Linked DNA regions of Homo sapiens: region 1 is linked to region 2. A link means that fine-mapping ties the variant in region 2 to the expression of a gene that starts in the linked region. Tissue or cell type: whole blood. Region 2 holds a variant in brackets; the other region holds the start of a gene. All regions are shown on one strand. Distances are between the middles of the regions.

Evidence for each region. PIP is the estimated chance that this variant, and not a neighbour inherited with it, causes the effect.
Region 1: GCH1 starts here. The variant in region 2 is fine-mapped to the expression of GCH1 in whole blood (TOPMed, PIP above 0.99).

Annotation. Positions count from the first base shown.
Region 1 is chr14:54,897,817-54,906,155 of GRCh38, reverse strand. GCH1 (GTP cyclohydrolase 1) reads left to right here and starts at 3,330. Exons shown (of 6, transcript NM_000161.3): 1 at 3,330-3,835. The coding sequence starts at 3,493. RefSeq lists silencers at 2,976-3,615, 4,026-4,075, 4,086-4,145 and an enhancer at 8,245-8,339.
Region 2 is chr14:54,859,849-54,868,187 of GRCh38, reverse strand. GCH1 (GTP cyclohydrolase 1) reads left to right here. Exons shown (of 6, transcript NM_000161.3): 2 at 2,752-2,861. Among named protein-coding and RNA genes, the nearest start is that of MIR4308, 14 kb to the left of the region's middle. The variant C/T (reference allele first, on the strand shown) is at 4,650.

The DNA.
Region 1 (8,339 bases), 38 kb before region 2:
CCCCAACACTGGCCCCTCCTTTCCACCACTCACAAGTCTGGGCCTCTGGAACTTTTGATTGACTGGCTTCAAGTTGGGGTTTCCACAACCCCCTCTTTGGGTTCAATTAATTTGCTAGAGTGACTCAAAGAACTCAGGGAAACACTTACGTTTACCAGTTTATTATGAAGGATATTACAAAAGATACAGATGAAAAGATGCATAGGGTGAGGTATGGGGTAAGAGGTATGGAGTTTCCATGCCCTCCCTGGGCACACCACCCTCCAGGAACCTCCACATATTCAGCTGTCCAAAACCTCCCTGAGCCCTGCCGTCTGGGCCTTTTATGTTCGTTGTATAGGCATGATTGAAGCATGGACAGCCGTGTCAAGGTGTGATTGACCTCTCTGTGCAGCCATGCTTCCTCCAGGGTATGAGGCAGGACCCTGTTTGCAATGAGGGTTTATGATCCGTAATCAGAAAGGCGGGAGATGATTAGAGTCCTGCCTTTAGTGAGTGGAAGGGGAGCAGAAGGTGAGAGAGAGAGAGAGAGAGAGAGAGAGAGAGATTGATTCTATTTTCTGAGGCCTAAAGTGCCCCAACATTGTAACAAAAGACTGTGAGTTATGAACCAGGTACTATGGCTGAAAACCTACATATACATGTATCATCATATCACACTTGGCAAACAACTCTTTGTACATTTCTGTAGCACTGCAGTGTTCAGTCTCTGACTTGGTGTGTCTTTCTCATCTGCCTCTTTGTTCTGCTGCTGTCCTAGAAATTAGAGACTTTAAAAAATTCCTTGGCTTTTTGGTAGAAAGAAACTCCCAGACTGGGTCCAAGCTGAAAATGAATCCCTTACTGGGTGAAAAACATGGATGCGGTAACAATTCCTGGCTGTAAATGCTCATAATATTACTGTTGAACCATTTTATGCTAATAAATTATCTGGGACCTACTTCCCTTTTGGTTTATTCCTCTTTTTTTCTCCTGTTGCTACTTATAACCATCCTTGTCAACTATCTACATTTTACTATTAAATTATTCATATAATGTTGGTGATTTCAAAGTTTTCTTGTATTATTTTTGGGCATTTGGCCGAAAGGCACTGCCTCCATTTTACAAGTTAGCATGTATCCAGAGGCCCTGTCCTGCAACAAAGGTGCAGGTGCCTCAGTGGCAATACGTGTAAGAAAATGTTAATTTTTAGGGTAAAAATTTCATTAGAAACTGTCTTTGTGGAATACAATATTAGTTAATCTTTACACATGTTTTTAAAGGAAGACGAAAGATTGCCACTAAAAATAAATTCGTACTGAAAGCATCTCTATCTACTCTCTCCATTTTTAAAGTACCTCACTTAGTATCTTTGTTTTCATTTGTTAAATGCAAGGTCATCCTTTGAATGTTGTCTTCAACTATGCTTGAAATAGCTTGAGACCCAGCAGATAATTCTGACCAGGAGGTATCAGCAGACAGTGGGCAGCACAGTTAGAGGAAAAAAATGTTGCAGGGCCCCACTCCCAATAAAAACCTACAATAAAAAATTTAAAAATTTTAATAAAGAGGAAAATGACAAAGAGGTTTTCCAAAGGATGTTCATATTCTCTATTTAAAAACCCCACTGGGCCGGGTACGGTGGCTCAGGCCTATAATCCTGAGCCCTGGAGTTCGAGACCAGCTTTGGCAACATGGTGAAACCTTATCTCTACCAAAAATACAAAAATTAGCCAGTCTCATAACCCGCTCTTAAATAAATAGATTAAAATTTAAAAATAAATAAATAAATAAATAAATAAATAAATAAATAACCCCACTGATATGAACATTTCTTCCATTTTGGAGTAAAGGTGCCTACAAGGCTAGGCAATGTCCATATTTCTTTCCTGAATGTTTCCAACGGGGCTGCGCCTAGAGCAGATGTATCATAAATACTAATTACTTATTATAATGACCAAGCTACATTGTTAGCATAGAATAATTCCACAGGCTTCCCTATTGGTTTGTTTGATCCTAAGCCTATTAATACCTGCTTCTATGTCAGAAAATCTACATTAGGCCAGGCATGGTGGCTCACACCTGTAATCCCAGCACTTTGGGAGGCCGAGGCAGGTGGATCACCTGAGGTCAGGAGTTCGAGACCAGCCTGGCCAACATGGCAAAACCCCACCTCTCCTAAAAATACAAAAATTTAGCCGGGCATGGTGGCAGGTGCCTGTAATCCCAGCTACTCAGGAGGCTGAGGCAGGAGAATCGTTTGAACCCAGGAGGCGGAGGATGAAGTGAGCCTCAAAAAAAAAAAAAGAAAAAAAATATTATTTTGATACATGTTTTAAAGCTCACCTTCGGCATTATGAGATAATCCCTCAAGTGAGGAAAAAGGTCCATTTATTAATCTCAAAGAAAACAGTTACAGCAGATGTCACTGGTTAAGAGTTCAGTTGGTGAATAGCATTTCACAATTTGTACCAACATCTGGGGAAAGACGCTTTGCATGGAACTGTAAAACAATTGAGCACCAAATCTGCACAACTGCGTTTCTAGAAAATGCGATGGGTTTTATAGAGATGAGGTCTTGCTATGTTTTCCAGGCTGGTCTCGAACTCTTGGCCTCAAGCGATCCTCCCGCCTCGGTCTCCCCAAGCGCCGGGAGTACAGGCGTGAGCCACCGACGGAAATGGATTTTAAGTGAAAGTCCTATCTTCGTTTGCAAATCAATTTTTCCAGGATCAAAGTTCTAGCAACCATAAATCCTATCCTTCTAGACATAGGGACCCACATAAGGGCCACTTGATGTGACACTTGCCCCGACAGCGGTGCCACCTGGCCCCTAGGTGGCAGGTGCGTTTTTAACTAAACCCAAGAGTCTGAAGTCACATTATTCTCTTGCCTTGAAAGCTTAAGAGTTGGTTCCTAATCGGTGGCTTAACTCGGTCTCTCTCCAGGCAAGGCCACCTGTTTGCTGATCTTTCACAGGGCGAGGGGACCGGAGCCCTTCAATGCAGCGCCCTCTTGGCCTGAAGAGGGGGCGACTGGGCGCCCAGACCGCGTCTTTCTCACTGAGATCCCAGCTCCTGGACGACTGCCTCTTTTCGGGTTCGGCTCATTCCGCAATAAGTGGAGGGGTCCCGCCTGATCCTAGGGGCCGGCGCCCTTTTCCTTCCCTCCCTGCGCTTGCGAACCCCTCCGGGCGTCTCCGGAGCCGCGACCCCTGCTGGGGACCCCGGGGGCGGGAGGCCGAGGGGCGCGGCGAGGGCCGTGACGCGAGGCGGGGCCGGCCAATGGGAGCGCTCCGCGGCGCAGGCTGAGCCGCCGGGCCATAAAAAGGAGGCGCGGCCGGGCTTTCCAGCCTGTGGCCGCTCCCGGCTCGGAGTGTGATCTAAGCAGGTTGCGTACCTTCCTCAGGTGACTCCGGCCACAGCCCATTGTCCGCGGCCACCGGCGGAGTTTAGCCGCAGACCTCGAAGCGCCCCGGGGTCCTTCCCGAACGGCAGCGGCTGCGGCGGGTCCATGGAGAAGGGCCCTGTGCGGGCACCGGCGGAGAAGCCGCGGGGCGCCAGGTGCAGCAATGGGTTCCCCGAGCGGGATCCGCCGCGGCCCGGGCCCAGCAGGCCGGCGGAGAAGCCCCCGCGGCCCGAGGCCAAGAGCGCGCAGCCCGCGGACGGCTGGAAGGGCGAGCGGCCCCGCAGCGAGGAGGATAACGAGCTGAACCTCCCTAACCTGGCAGCCGCCTACTCGTCCATCCTGAGCTCGCTGGGCGAGAACCCCCAGCGGCAAGGGCTGCTCAAGACGCCCTGGAGGGCGGCCTCGGCCATGCAGTTCTTCACCAAGGGCTACCAGGAGACCATCTCAGGTCAGTGCGCCCGCGGGCTGCTAGAGCGTGCGGGCGGCGGGGGCGGTGCTTGCAGGAAACGCGCGCCGGCTCCAGGAAGTTTCCGGAGTTGCCTCACTTTTGGCGCAGGAAGCCGGGCGCTGTCACCTCCGAACCCGCCCTAGCCTGCCGCCCTGCCGAGGCCCTGCGTGGGGCACAGTCGGGGCTTCCTGGGTGGCAGCGACCTCTCAGCCCCGGAACTCGCTGCAGCCGCCTTCCAGGGGCCCTTCCCGCTCCCAGCGCGCAGCCCTCCTAGAACGCCCCGGGTGGGCGTGGACGGGAGCCCGGAGCCCTCTCGCCTGAGCGCCCAGCGCGGGATTCTCGGGGTACCTGCGGTTCCAAACTTGCCCACGATAAGGATCACCTGGGCACTTGCTGCGGCGACGGCTTCCTGGGTAGTTCCTTATTGAGATCCCATTGTCAGGGTGTGTATCTGGATTGAAGCCTCGGCGCGATCCTTCCCCGAAACCTCGGGGACCTGCATTCCCACTGATTTGCCAGGGGATCGGAGTCTTAGAGTTGTGCTTTTTTTTTTGTCCACCTCAAGTTTACTCCAGTTCAGGACATTTACAAAATTCGGCACAATTTTGGGCACGGGCTTCCCCGGAGTTTGAGGTGTGAGGTTGATTGGGTGAGTTTGCTGCTGAAATCTGTTTCCTCCCCCCACCCCCAACCCCGCAAAAAGCAGTAAAGCTACTCCGGGATTCGGAGGGCTCCGTGGGTTCCAGGACTCAGTCTCATCCCCGCACCCTCCCACCCTAAAATAAAGCCGGGTTGACCCGGTGCTGTTAGCGTCTGAGGCGTGTCGGCTTTTCACCCAGAGGGTGGGGATGCAATCAGTGTGGGTAGGATGCAAGATGGGGTGATGGAGAGTGGAAAATGGGGACTTTGCTGCCTGTTGGCCAGAGAAGCAGTATTGGTCTGTGTTTAAAAAAATAAAGCTTCTGGCTTCTACAGCTGGGACCAAAGACATTATTTTCCAGTCTACACCTTCCGTGTGTCTTGGTGACATTTATTTATTTGCCCTAAGAAGCATTCTACCGTTCACTGTTTTTTGAAAGAAAAACAGTGCGCTGGAAAGGCAATCTCCCTGCCCCAGTTATTTCTCTGAAGGAGTGTAGAGCGATTCCACCAAATAGACCCTGGGAAAAAGAAAGTTATTTTTTGCCCAGTCTTCCACACCCCAAAGGAAGGGTGGGAAATCAGAATGTGAAAGAGACGGGGCCCCAAAAGGAAATGATGCTACACTCTAAAACCGGCAGTGACTTCTAGTTCTGTTTCCAAATTCACTTTTTTTTACCCCTCAATTGCAAAAGTTTGGAATCTCAGAAGAGATTTCAAAATACAAAGACTGAAAAATAAACTTTCAGTTTTCTGTGGGATCAGCTCTTTGGAGGTCTAGGGCTTTAAATTTGTGTGTGTGTGTGTGTGTGTGTGTGTGTGTGTGTGTGTGTGTGAGATATTTCACAATGTAATGAAATGTCTTCTTAAGGCCTTACTCATTTTGCCCCTTGCAGACACAGAAAGTGGTTTACTTCACAGCATCGGCCAGGCTTTGGGAATCCTCCCTTAAAGAGAATTCATAGGACAGTGTTCTGTAATCTAGCATGGATCTAATTACCCAAAGAGAGAGGAATTTCTGACCCTGAGACAGGTCACAGAATTATCTAAAGTGACTCACAGATTTACTTGAGAAATGGTTAGCTGAAATATCTCATGAGCGAAGATTCATTTAAAGAGGATTAATAACTGCAAAGAACACATCATTCCACATTAGAAAACTGTTCTGGTTGGCCGAGCTCGGTGCTCACGCCTGTAATCCCAGCACTTTGGGAGGCCGAGGTGGGCGGATCACCTGAGGTCAGGAGTTCAAGACCAGCCCGGTCAACATGGCGAAACCCCGTCTCTACTAAAGATACAAAAAAATTAGCCGGGTGTGATGGCGGGCGCCTGTAGTCCCAGCTACTCGGGAGGCTGAGGCAGGAGAATCACTTGAACCCAGGAGGAGGAGGTTGCAGTGAGCCGAGATTGCACCACTGCACTCCAGCCTGGACGACAGAGGGAGACTCTGTCTCCAGAAAAAACAAAAAAAACAAAAAAACTGTTCTGGTCAAGTTTTACTATTTAAAAAGTCCATGGGCCGGGCGCGGTGGCTCACACCTGTAATCCCAGCACTTTGGGAGGCCGAGGCGGGCGGATCACCTGAGGTCAGGAGTTCGAGACCAGCCTGGCCAACATGGGAAAACCCATTCTCTACCAAAAATACAAAAATTAGCCGGGCATGGTGTCAGGTGCCTGTAATCCCAGCTACTCAGGAAGCTGAGGTAGGAGAATCATTTGAACCCTGGAGGCGGAGGTTGCAGTGAGCCGAGATCGCACCATTACACTCCAGCCTGGGCAACAAGAACTAAACTCCATTTCAAAAAAAAAAAAAGTCCATGGATGTAGAGACACTGCAAGATTAGTAGTTGTCAGGGACTGGCGAGAAGAGGGGGATGGGTAGTGATTGTTTAATGAGTATGGAGCTTCCTTTGGAGCTTCCTTTTGGAGTCATGAAAATGTTCTGGAACTAGAGAGTGGTGATAGTTGCACAATATTGTGAATGCCACTGGATTGTAACTTCAAGATGGCTAAAAATGACCAATTTTATATATATTTTACCACAATATAAAGACAGGTTTTGTGGCGTGCCTGCAGTCCCAGCTACTAGGGAGGCTGAGGCAGGAGGATAGTTGTTGCTCAGGAGAACAGCCTGGGCAACGTGGGGAGACCCTGTTTCAGAAAAGAAAAGTCCATGGAGCGGACCATTTAAGATTATTATTATTATGTTTATTTTCATGTTTTTGAGACAGGGTTTGGCTCTGCTGCCTAGGCTGGAGTGCAGTGGCGCAATCTCGGCTCACTGCAGTCTCACTCTGCTGGACTCAAGTGATCCCACCTCAGCCTCCTGAATAGCTGGAACTACAGGCTTGTGCCACCATGCCCTGCTAATTTTTGTATTTTTGATAGAGACGGGTTTTTGCCATGTTGCCCGGGCTGGTCTTGAACTCCTGAGCTCAAGGGATCTGCCTGCCTTGGCTTCCCAGAGTGCTAGGATTACAGGTGTGAGCCACCATACCCAGCCCATTTAAGATTATTATAAGCCATTAATTGAATATAATCATGCATTACATTATGATGTTTCCTTCAATGATGGACCACATGTATGAAGGTGGTTTATAAGATTACAATGGAGCTGAAAAATTCACATTGTCTGGTGATGTCTTGGTGATCCTGACCTGTGTAGGCCTAGAGTAATGTGTTTGTTTGTGTCTTAGTTTTTTCCTCTCGTCTCCCCCATGTCTTAGTTTTTAACAAAATTTAAAAATTAAGAAAATTGGGCCAGGCATGGTGGCTCACACCTGTAATCCCAGCACTTTGGGAGGCCAAGGTGGGCGGATTACTTGAGGTTAGGAGTTAGAAAGAGACCAGCCTGGCCAACATGTTGAAACCCCATCTCTACTAAACATGTAAAAATTAGCCAGATGTGGTGGCGCATACCTGTAGTCACAGCTACTTGGAAGGCTGAGGCAGGAGAATCACTTGAACCCAGAAGGTGGAGGTTGCAGTGAGCCGAGATTGCACCAATGCACTGCAGCCTGGTTGACAGAGTGAGACTCCGTCTCAACAGTAAATAAATAAATAAAAATAAAAATTAAAATTAAAAATAGAAAAAGGTATAGAACAAGGATATAAAATATTTTTGCACAGCTGTACAATGTGTTTTTGTTTTAAGCTGTGTTATTACAAAAGAGTCAAAGTTTTAAATACATTAAGCTGAAATTATTGAAGAAAAAATATGTTTAGTGTAGCCCAAGTGTACAGTGTTTATAAAGTTTACAGTAGTGTACAGTAATGTCCTAGGCCTTCACATTCACTTACCATGCATTCACTGACTCACCCAGAGCAACTTCCAATCCTGCAAGCTCCTTTCATGGTAAGTGCCCTACACAGACATACCATCTTAAGTCTTTTCTACTATATTTTTACTGTACCTTTTCTATGTTTAGATGTCTTTCTAAAATTATTATTATTTGTATTTTAAATATAGAGGCAGGGTCTCACTGTTTTGCCCAGGCTGGTCTCGAACTCCTGGGCTCAAGTGATCCTCTCCTCTTGGTCTCCCAAAGTGCTGGGATTACAGGCATGAGCTATCCCACCTGGCCTACATATCTTTAAATACACAAATACCATTGTGTTACAGTTGCCTGCAGCATTCATTACAGTAACATGCCATACAGGTTTGTAGCCTAGGAATAATAGGCTCTACCGTGTAGCCTAGGTGTGTAATAGGCTATCTCATCTAGGTTTGTGTTAGCACTCTCTTCCTTCAGTGTTTGCGATATGAAACTGCATTTCTCAGGTGTTTCTCAGAATGTATCCCCATTGTTAAGCAATGCATGACCGTACTTTTTAATGGGTTAAAAGCTTTACGTTGGATGGTCTT
Region 2 (8,339 bases):
CCCACCTTGCCCTACCAAAGTGCTGGGATTACAGGTGTGAGCCACTGTGCCTGGCCTGATGCTTTCTAAGAGTACTTGTTTAGATATTTTGTGTCCCTAGATTTGTCTGATGATTAGGCTGCAGTTATGGATTTTTGGGAAGAATACCGCAGAGGTGATGTGCCCTTCTCATGGTGTCCTATCAGGAGCTACCTGATGTCAGTATGTCCTGTTACTGGCAAAGTTAACCTTAATCATTTGGTTAAGGTAGCCTCTGCCAGGTTTCTCCACCAAGTTACTATTTTTCCTTTTCTGTACTCTGTTAAGGCAAATTATTGCTTTTTAAATTTTGATGTACCTCAATATGCATGGGAGATACATAGCTTTGCAGCTCCCTCAATCTTAATTGTAATAATAATAGTAATAACAATAACTAGCACTTGCTCCGCCTGCATAGTTCTAAACACATGTGCCCATTTAATCCTCATGACACCCTGTGAAGCAGGCACTTTATGCTCATTTTATAGCCGAGAAGACTGAGGTACAGAGTACCTTGCCCAAGGCCTAATAACTAGTAAGTGATGGAGCCAGATCTTTTTTTTTTTTTTTTTTTTTTTTTGAGACGGAGTCTTGTTCTCTCTTGCCCAGGCTAGAGTACAGTGACATGATCTCGGCTCACTGCAGCCTCCACATCCCGGGTTCAAGCAATTCTCCTGTCTCAGCCCCCCGAGTAGCTGGGACTACAGGCATGCACCACCACGCCTGGCTTATTTTTGTATTTTCAGTAGAGACAGGGTTTGACCATGTTGGCCAGGCTGGTCTCAAACACCTGACCTCAGGTGATCCACCTACCTCTGCCTCCCAGAGTGCTGGGATTACAGGCATGAGCCACTGCACCCAGCCTGGAGCCAGCTCTTCACTTCGCCTGAGTTGAAGGGCTGACTTTAACATGGGCCATATGGTTGTCGTCAGAGCTTAGGATGGGGACGCTCTCATTCTTTGCCAGAGAAAACAAATGCTTCCTATATTTAATGCTTCTCTCTTGTTTTTTCTTTAAGACATTTTTTTGGTTTGTTTTTCCTTCCAGGAATATATCTTGTGTGACTAAAGATTTTAGTAAGCTATATGTGGCAATCATACCATATTAAAATCTTGGGGAGAAATCCAAGAAACTTTTGGAAACATTAAGGATCTATTTTTGGTCTTCTTTTCAGAAATAAGACTGAAGGTAGGGCAGAATATTCAGCATAGAAAAGTGCTGTGGTAGAAGAAATACTCAGTGAGTGACACTGCGCCTTTTTCTCCTGGGATGTTATCAGCCACTTCTACCAGGGGTGTCTCTGTTTGTCTGTATGTGTCTAACCCTGCCATGTTCGCCTTTCTTGACCACACTAATGACTTTTCTATGACACAGTCAAATGTATCTCTGAATAGCCTGACTTGGGGTAATAACTGTGGTTTACGTGATGACTTGGTCTCTGTGAGCCCCCTATTCTAGTAGCAGTGGAGCCACTGAAGGTCAGGCAGTGTGGGTGGACATTTGTCCATCTTCCTGTGACTCACTCAGCCGCCTGCCTTTCTGAGGGGAAAGAGCTGCAGGTGCAAAGCTCTAATACATCCCTTCCCTTCTCTGTCTAATTCTATTATGTATATTGCATATCCCCCAAATCCTTGAAATTACTCAGCTACGTGTCTTATTATATCTAGTCTGCCAAGCTGTCTAGGTATCAGTACAGTTTTTTTCTATGTCTATATTTATTTTCCGAAAATGAAATCCTACTGTATTTCTTTGTAGCTTCTTTTCTCATTTGACAATATAGCTGAAGAAGTTTCCATGTCATATGGCATTTATCTACAATGTTGTTTGGGTACCTGCCTATTATCAATAGCTTGGCTATATTATGATTGGTGGGGAATGTGGCTTGTTTCCCTCTATCCCTCTTCAGCATCCAGGACAGGATGTTCTTGCAGTCACCGAATGTTAGGAAGCTCAGAGTGCTCTCAGGCATCATCTGATTAATCTTTTCTTTTGCACATAGCATAGTTGAGGATAAGTCAGTGCAATTTTTAAAAATAAAGCTTTTTTTTTTTTTAATGTCTATTGTATGTCTGGCTGGAAGTGCCAGGGTCCACAGCTTAAACAAGACACTGCTTATCTTCCAAAGCCTTCCCAGAGAGGCATATACACACAAACTGTAGGATTTATTTCCTTAGGAAGGCAACTGTTTAGAATAAGTCTGATGCTAGCCTACAATATATAGAACACTTTACAAATGTAGAAAATTACTTGGGGAATTGATAATAGAGGTCAGGTTTACAGGTGTCTGGATCTGGCCTCAGAAGTCAGAGGGCTAAGGATTAGTCTTTTTCTCAGATATGGTTTTCTACATATTGATTATAGACAAAATATAAAGTAGAAGAAAATGTAAGGAAGAAAGTGAAAGTGGCCCATTTCTACTGCCAGAAATAGCCACTGTTTTATTTTGGTATAATTTTTCCTTTCCTCCCTCCGTTCTCCTTCCTCTTCCATACTGCAAATATGTTCATAATCCTGCATTTTTCATGTAACACTGTATCAAGGATTTTTAAATGTTACTTACAGAAAAGGACTTTGCTACTTTGATAAGGAAAAATATCTAGTTTTAATTTGTATTCCCTTAATATTTTAGGGAGGATTAACGTTCGTTTATGTTGACTGTCTATTCATGTTTATCCATAATTCTACCTTTCTATAAAATTGGACATGTTACTAAAGCAAGCCTCTGATTTCAGATGTCCTAAACGATGCTATATTTGATGAAGATCATGATGAGATGGTGATTGTGAAGGACATAGACATGTTTTCCATGTGTGAGCATCACTTGGTTCCATTTGTTGGAAAGGTAAGGTTCTCTTTGTTGTTTCCCAGCAATTTAAAACATAGTGAAAGTTTTTCAATTAGAATAATTATATTTAAAATTTTTAGCTGCCAATTGCTGATATCTCAGGTATTTACAATTATACATATATGGTTATTCTTTATTAACCTGACTAATAACTTGAAACTTAAAAAACAAAACCAAAGTAGCAGAAGGCTCTCAGGATAAGCCTTTCATGTTAAATACCAGGTTCATAGGTTAAAATAATGAGGTTTAAGTAGCATCTCTCTCTCTCTTTTTTTTTTTTTGTAGCTACTACAGGCTCTGAAAACCTTTAACCTTTATTTATTTATTATTAGCATCCCAATCTAGAGATGCCCTTTATTTTAACTTGAATAATGTTTGATCCAAGATAGATATGTATGTATGGCATGTCATGAGCAACAATAATTGCAGAATTTCTTGTGACAGAGGTTATGGTATTTGTGGATTTGTTTCCATTCCTTTCTATATTAGGAAAAGTGAATCTAATGCATTAGATTCCTCAGCACCTCTGTGAATTTCTTTTGTCAGAAATGTTTAGTCCTAGTCTTATGAAACTTTAGATCTAATCTAGTTTACAGGAAATCCAGAGGCTGAATGGAACAAATCCAGAAGGTGGGGCACTCTGCTGAACAGCTGGCCTATTCTCTTTTCAATAGAGAATATTATGGGTGGGAGCACTATTTTAGGACAAAAGGGACTTAAGAGGTATAACCAAATGCAGTGTAAATACAAATGTGTGACTCTCCATTGGATTCCTGTTTAAACAAACCAAAAGTAAAACATTTGAGACAATTGGAGGAATTTAAATCTGAGTTAGTTATTAGATGTTGTCTAGGAATGACTACTTAACATACCTTTGAGAACATGTGGTATAGAACAAAGAGTTGTCCCATTTCCCTACCCCCATCATAATTTTATTTAATTTTGACTCTTTATTAATAATCTTTAAACAGAAGACTTACAAGAAGCAGTGTTATGAATACTTATATACCCATCAACTAAAGTTAAAGTGTTAACATTTGCTTCATTTTTGTCTTTGTTAAAGTATTGTATCTTTTCACTTTTTTATGGAAATAATATATAGATAGAAAATGCATAAAACTTAAGGGTGTTCCTTACCACTTCAGAGATCAAGAACTAGAATAGGCTGGCACGGTGGTTCATGCCTGTAATCCCAGCACTTTGGAAGGCTGAGGTAGGTGGATTGCTTGAACCCAGGAGTTCAAGACCAGCCTGGGCAACATGGTGAGACCCCATCTCTACCAAGATAAAAATAAAAATTACCTGGGCATGGTGGTGCATGCCTGTACTGCCAGCTACTCGGGAGGCTGAGATGGGAGGATGGCTTGAGTCCAAGAGGCAGGGGTTGCAGTGAGCCGAGATTGCGCCACTATATCCTAGCCTGGGCAACAGAGCCAGACTGCCAGACCCTGTCAAACAAACAAACAAACAAACAACAACGAAACCCCCACAACTACAATATGTGTAGCATCCTGGAAGCTCACCTCATTTCTTTTCTCTTCTTAATCCCTAATCCATCCTTTGTATCAGTTTATCAACTTATAACCCTATGGATTCGTTTTCTTGTTTTTCAACTATATGTAAGTGGAAAGATTCTACGATATGTACTCTTTGTGTCTGGCCTCTCTTGTTCTACATAGTCGGATTCATTGATGTCATTGCCTGTCATTGTAGTTTATTTTCATTGTTATATCTTATTCCATTGTACAAATATACCACAATTTATCTATTCTGCTCTTGGTGGAC[C/T]TTTGTATTGTTGCCTCTTTTTTTTTTTTTTTTTTTTTTGCTATTACAAACAATACTGCTGTCAATACTTTTTTGGAGTACATGTGCATGCTTTTTTTTTTTTTTTTTTTTTTTTTTGAGACGGAGTCTCGCTCTGTCGCCCAGGCTAGATTGCAGTGGTGTGATCTCGGCTCACTGCAAGCTCCACCTCCCGGGTTCACGCCATTCTCTCACCTCAGCCTCCTGAGTAGCTGGGACTACAGGCGCCTGCCACCATGCTGGCTAATTTTGTTGTTGTATTTTTAGTAGAGAAGGGGTTTCACGGTGTTAGCCAGGATGGTCTTGATCTCCTGACCTCGTGATCCGCCCGCCTTGGCCTCCCAAAGTGCTGGGATTACAGGCGTGAGCCACCGCACCTGGCCCTAAAATATTTTCTTACTTATCCACAGCAGCACTATCACAAAATTAACAATAATTCTTAAATAGTGTCTAATAACGAATTCATATTTAAATTTCTCCAATTGTCTCAAATGTTTACTCTTGGTTTGTTTAAACAGGAATCCAAGGGAGAGTCACACATTTGTATTTACATTGCATTTGGTTATACCTGTTAAGTCCCTTTTGTTCTAAAATAGTGCTCCCACCCATAACATTCTCTACTGAAAAGAAAATAGGCCAGCTGTTCAGCAGAGTGCCCCACCTTCCAGATTTGTTTCCTTCAGCCTCTGGATTTCCTATAAACTAGATTAGATCTAAAGTTTCATAAGACTAGGGCTAAACATTTCTGATAAAAGTAGTTCGTAAGGGCTGGGCACGGTGGCTTACGTCAGTAATCTCAACACTTTGGGAGGCCAAGGCAGGTGGTGGATGTATCGCTTTGAGCTCAGGAGTTTGAGACCAACCTAGGCAACATGGTAAAACCCTGTCTCTACCAAAAAAAAAAAAACCAACCAAAAAAAAAAAAAACGAAAACCAATCAACCAAACAGACAAACAAAAAAACAGGCAAAAATTAGCTAGCATGGTGGCATGCACCTGTGGTCTCAGCTACTCGGGAGGGTGAGGTTGGAGAATCGCTTGAACCCAGGAGGTCGAGGCTGCAGTGAGCCGAGATCACACCACTGCACTCCAGCCTGGCAAGAGAGTGAATCCGTGTCCAAAAAAAAAAAAAAAAAAAAAAAGAGTAGTGCTTCATAAGGGTGCTGAAGACTTCATATTATATCACATCAGGGCCGAGTGAGGTGGCTCATGCCTGTAATCCCAGCGACTTGGGAAGTCAAGGTGGGAGGATAGCTTCAGGTCAATAGTTCAAGACCAGCAAGTGAGACTGTCTCTACCACAAAATAAATTTTTTTTTAAAATTAATTGGGCATGGTGGGTGCATACCTGTAGTCCTAGCTACTTTTTGGGAGTCTGAGGCAGGAAGATTGCTTGAGCTCAGGAGTTTCAGGTTACAGTGAACTATGATCATGCCACTGTACCCCAACCTGGGTGACAGAACAAGACCTTGTCTCTAAAAAGAAAAGAAGAGAAAGCAATCAGAAAACCCAGATACATCACATCAGAAGCCATATCGTATCTGGAAATCCTGCAATTGATAATGAAGGAATCTTTGAAAGGGAATCTATTGGTGAGCAAATTAGGCACAGAAAGCCTGTGACTTGTTCAAGAGGATAGAGAGAGTTAGTGGCTTGGCTGCAGCCAGATCCAAGGCACTGATTCTGTACTCAGCCTGTCACCATTTTATCCTGTTACTTTCTGCTATTACTTCCTCAGTGTTTGTGTTTTTGCTACCTTTGTTTTAAAAATATATTATTTAGTGATTTTTTTTTTTTTTTTGAGACAGTTTCGCTCTTGTTGCCTAGGCTGGAGTGCAGTGGTGCGATCTCGGCTCACTGCAACCTCCGCCTCCCAGGTTCAAGCAATTCTTCTGCTTCAGCCTCTCGAATAGCTGGGATTACAGGCACCCGCCACCACGCCTGGCTAATTTTTGTATTTTTAGTAGAGATGGGGTCTCACCATGTTGGCCAGGCTGGTCTTGAACTCCTGACCTCAGGCAATCCACCCAAAATGTTGGAATTACAGGTGTGAGCCACCACTCCTGGCCTATCTAGTGATTTTGTGAAATGGACATTTAAATTACCTAGGATCTTAAGACCAAAAATAGTATAAACAATGAACAAATTCCGTGTCTGCATGGAAATGTAAAAATTTCAGACAGCATAGAAGACCTTGGTTCATGGGAAAGTTTTAACTCTCTAATTTTTCTTTGAAATCCTCAATGTTCAGGTGCTATTTTACTTTTTCCTCCTGCCAACCAGGAAGGCAATGAGGTGGACTTCTCAAATTCCTAAAGCATAGTGCCAATGGATGGGGGAAAAAATCACTAAGTACTACTAGATCAATTATGTAAATAGTAAGTGAACAATGAAAACAGTGTTAGCAAACCATGATGCCGTTGAGTCTCTAATTTTATATTCGGTTAATTAATTGCCTACAAGTGACCATTTACTCTATTAATCTTTTCAGAGAACTAATGTTTTTCGTATGTAGTATTTGGCCCCAAAAGAGTAACTTTTATATTTGATATTAATTGGTGCCATTTAAGATAACAGAAATGGCCTGGCTGTATATTGGGTCCTTTAAAACTTAGTTCTTAGGGTGCAGGTTCTTGCCAAGCCATGGTGGTAGCAGTGCCCTTTTTCTCCAGTTAGGAAGATGGGGCCGGGCGTGGTGGCTCACGCCTGTAATCCCAACTCTTTGGGAGGCCGAGGCGGGCAGATCACAAGGTCAGGAGATCGAAACCATCCTGGCTAACACGGTGAAACACCATCTCTACTAAAAATACAAAAATTAGCTGGGTGTGGTGGCAGGCGCCTGTAGTCCCGGCTACTCAGGAGGCTAAGGCAGGGGAATTGCTTGAACCTTGGAGGCGGAGCTTGCAGTGAGCCAAGACTGGGCCACTGTACTCCAGCCTGGGCGACAGAGTGAGACTCCATCTCAAAAAAAAAAAAAAAAAAAAGGAAGATGGTGCACTCTCTAGCAGCTTAGAAACCAGGAAGCCAAGCACAAAAGGGTGTGGAGACCTTCTGTGCTGCAGGGCTTTGCGGTGGGATCTTAAGGCTGTGAGGTGGGATCTTAAGGCTGCTGTGATGTGTGGAATGGCAATACTTATGCTTACAGTTTTTGCCATTTAAAGGAGGCTTTCCTGTATACATTTTAGTGTTGCTATGAGATCATTTGCCTTTCCTTGAGAATGTTTCTCCTCCATAAAGAAGAAACTTTCAGATTTGTGTCAAGAGTTCAACTTCACAGGTAAGTGTCAGGGCCATGCAATTGACTCTTGAACAACATGAATTTGAACTGCATGGGTCCACTTAGACATGGCTCTTTTTCAAGCAAACACTGATCAAAAATTCTACAGTATTTGCAGGATACAAAACCTGTATAGATGGAGGGGCAACTTTTCATATATGCAGGTTCTGCAGGGCCGACTGCGGGACTTGAGTATGCAGGATTTGGGTATACACAGGGGTCCTGGAAGCAATCTCCCGCATTTACCAACGGACAACTGTACAAGTTTGTTATTTGATTAATAGACTCATACTTATATATTTTGCTTTTACTGCATTTATGTAATTTTAAAAATACATATATAAATGTTTCATTTTCTAAGTCTTAACAGTTCCAGATGTTTTCAAGGTAATACATT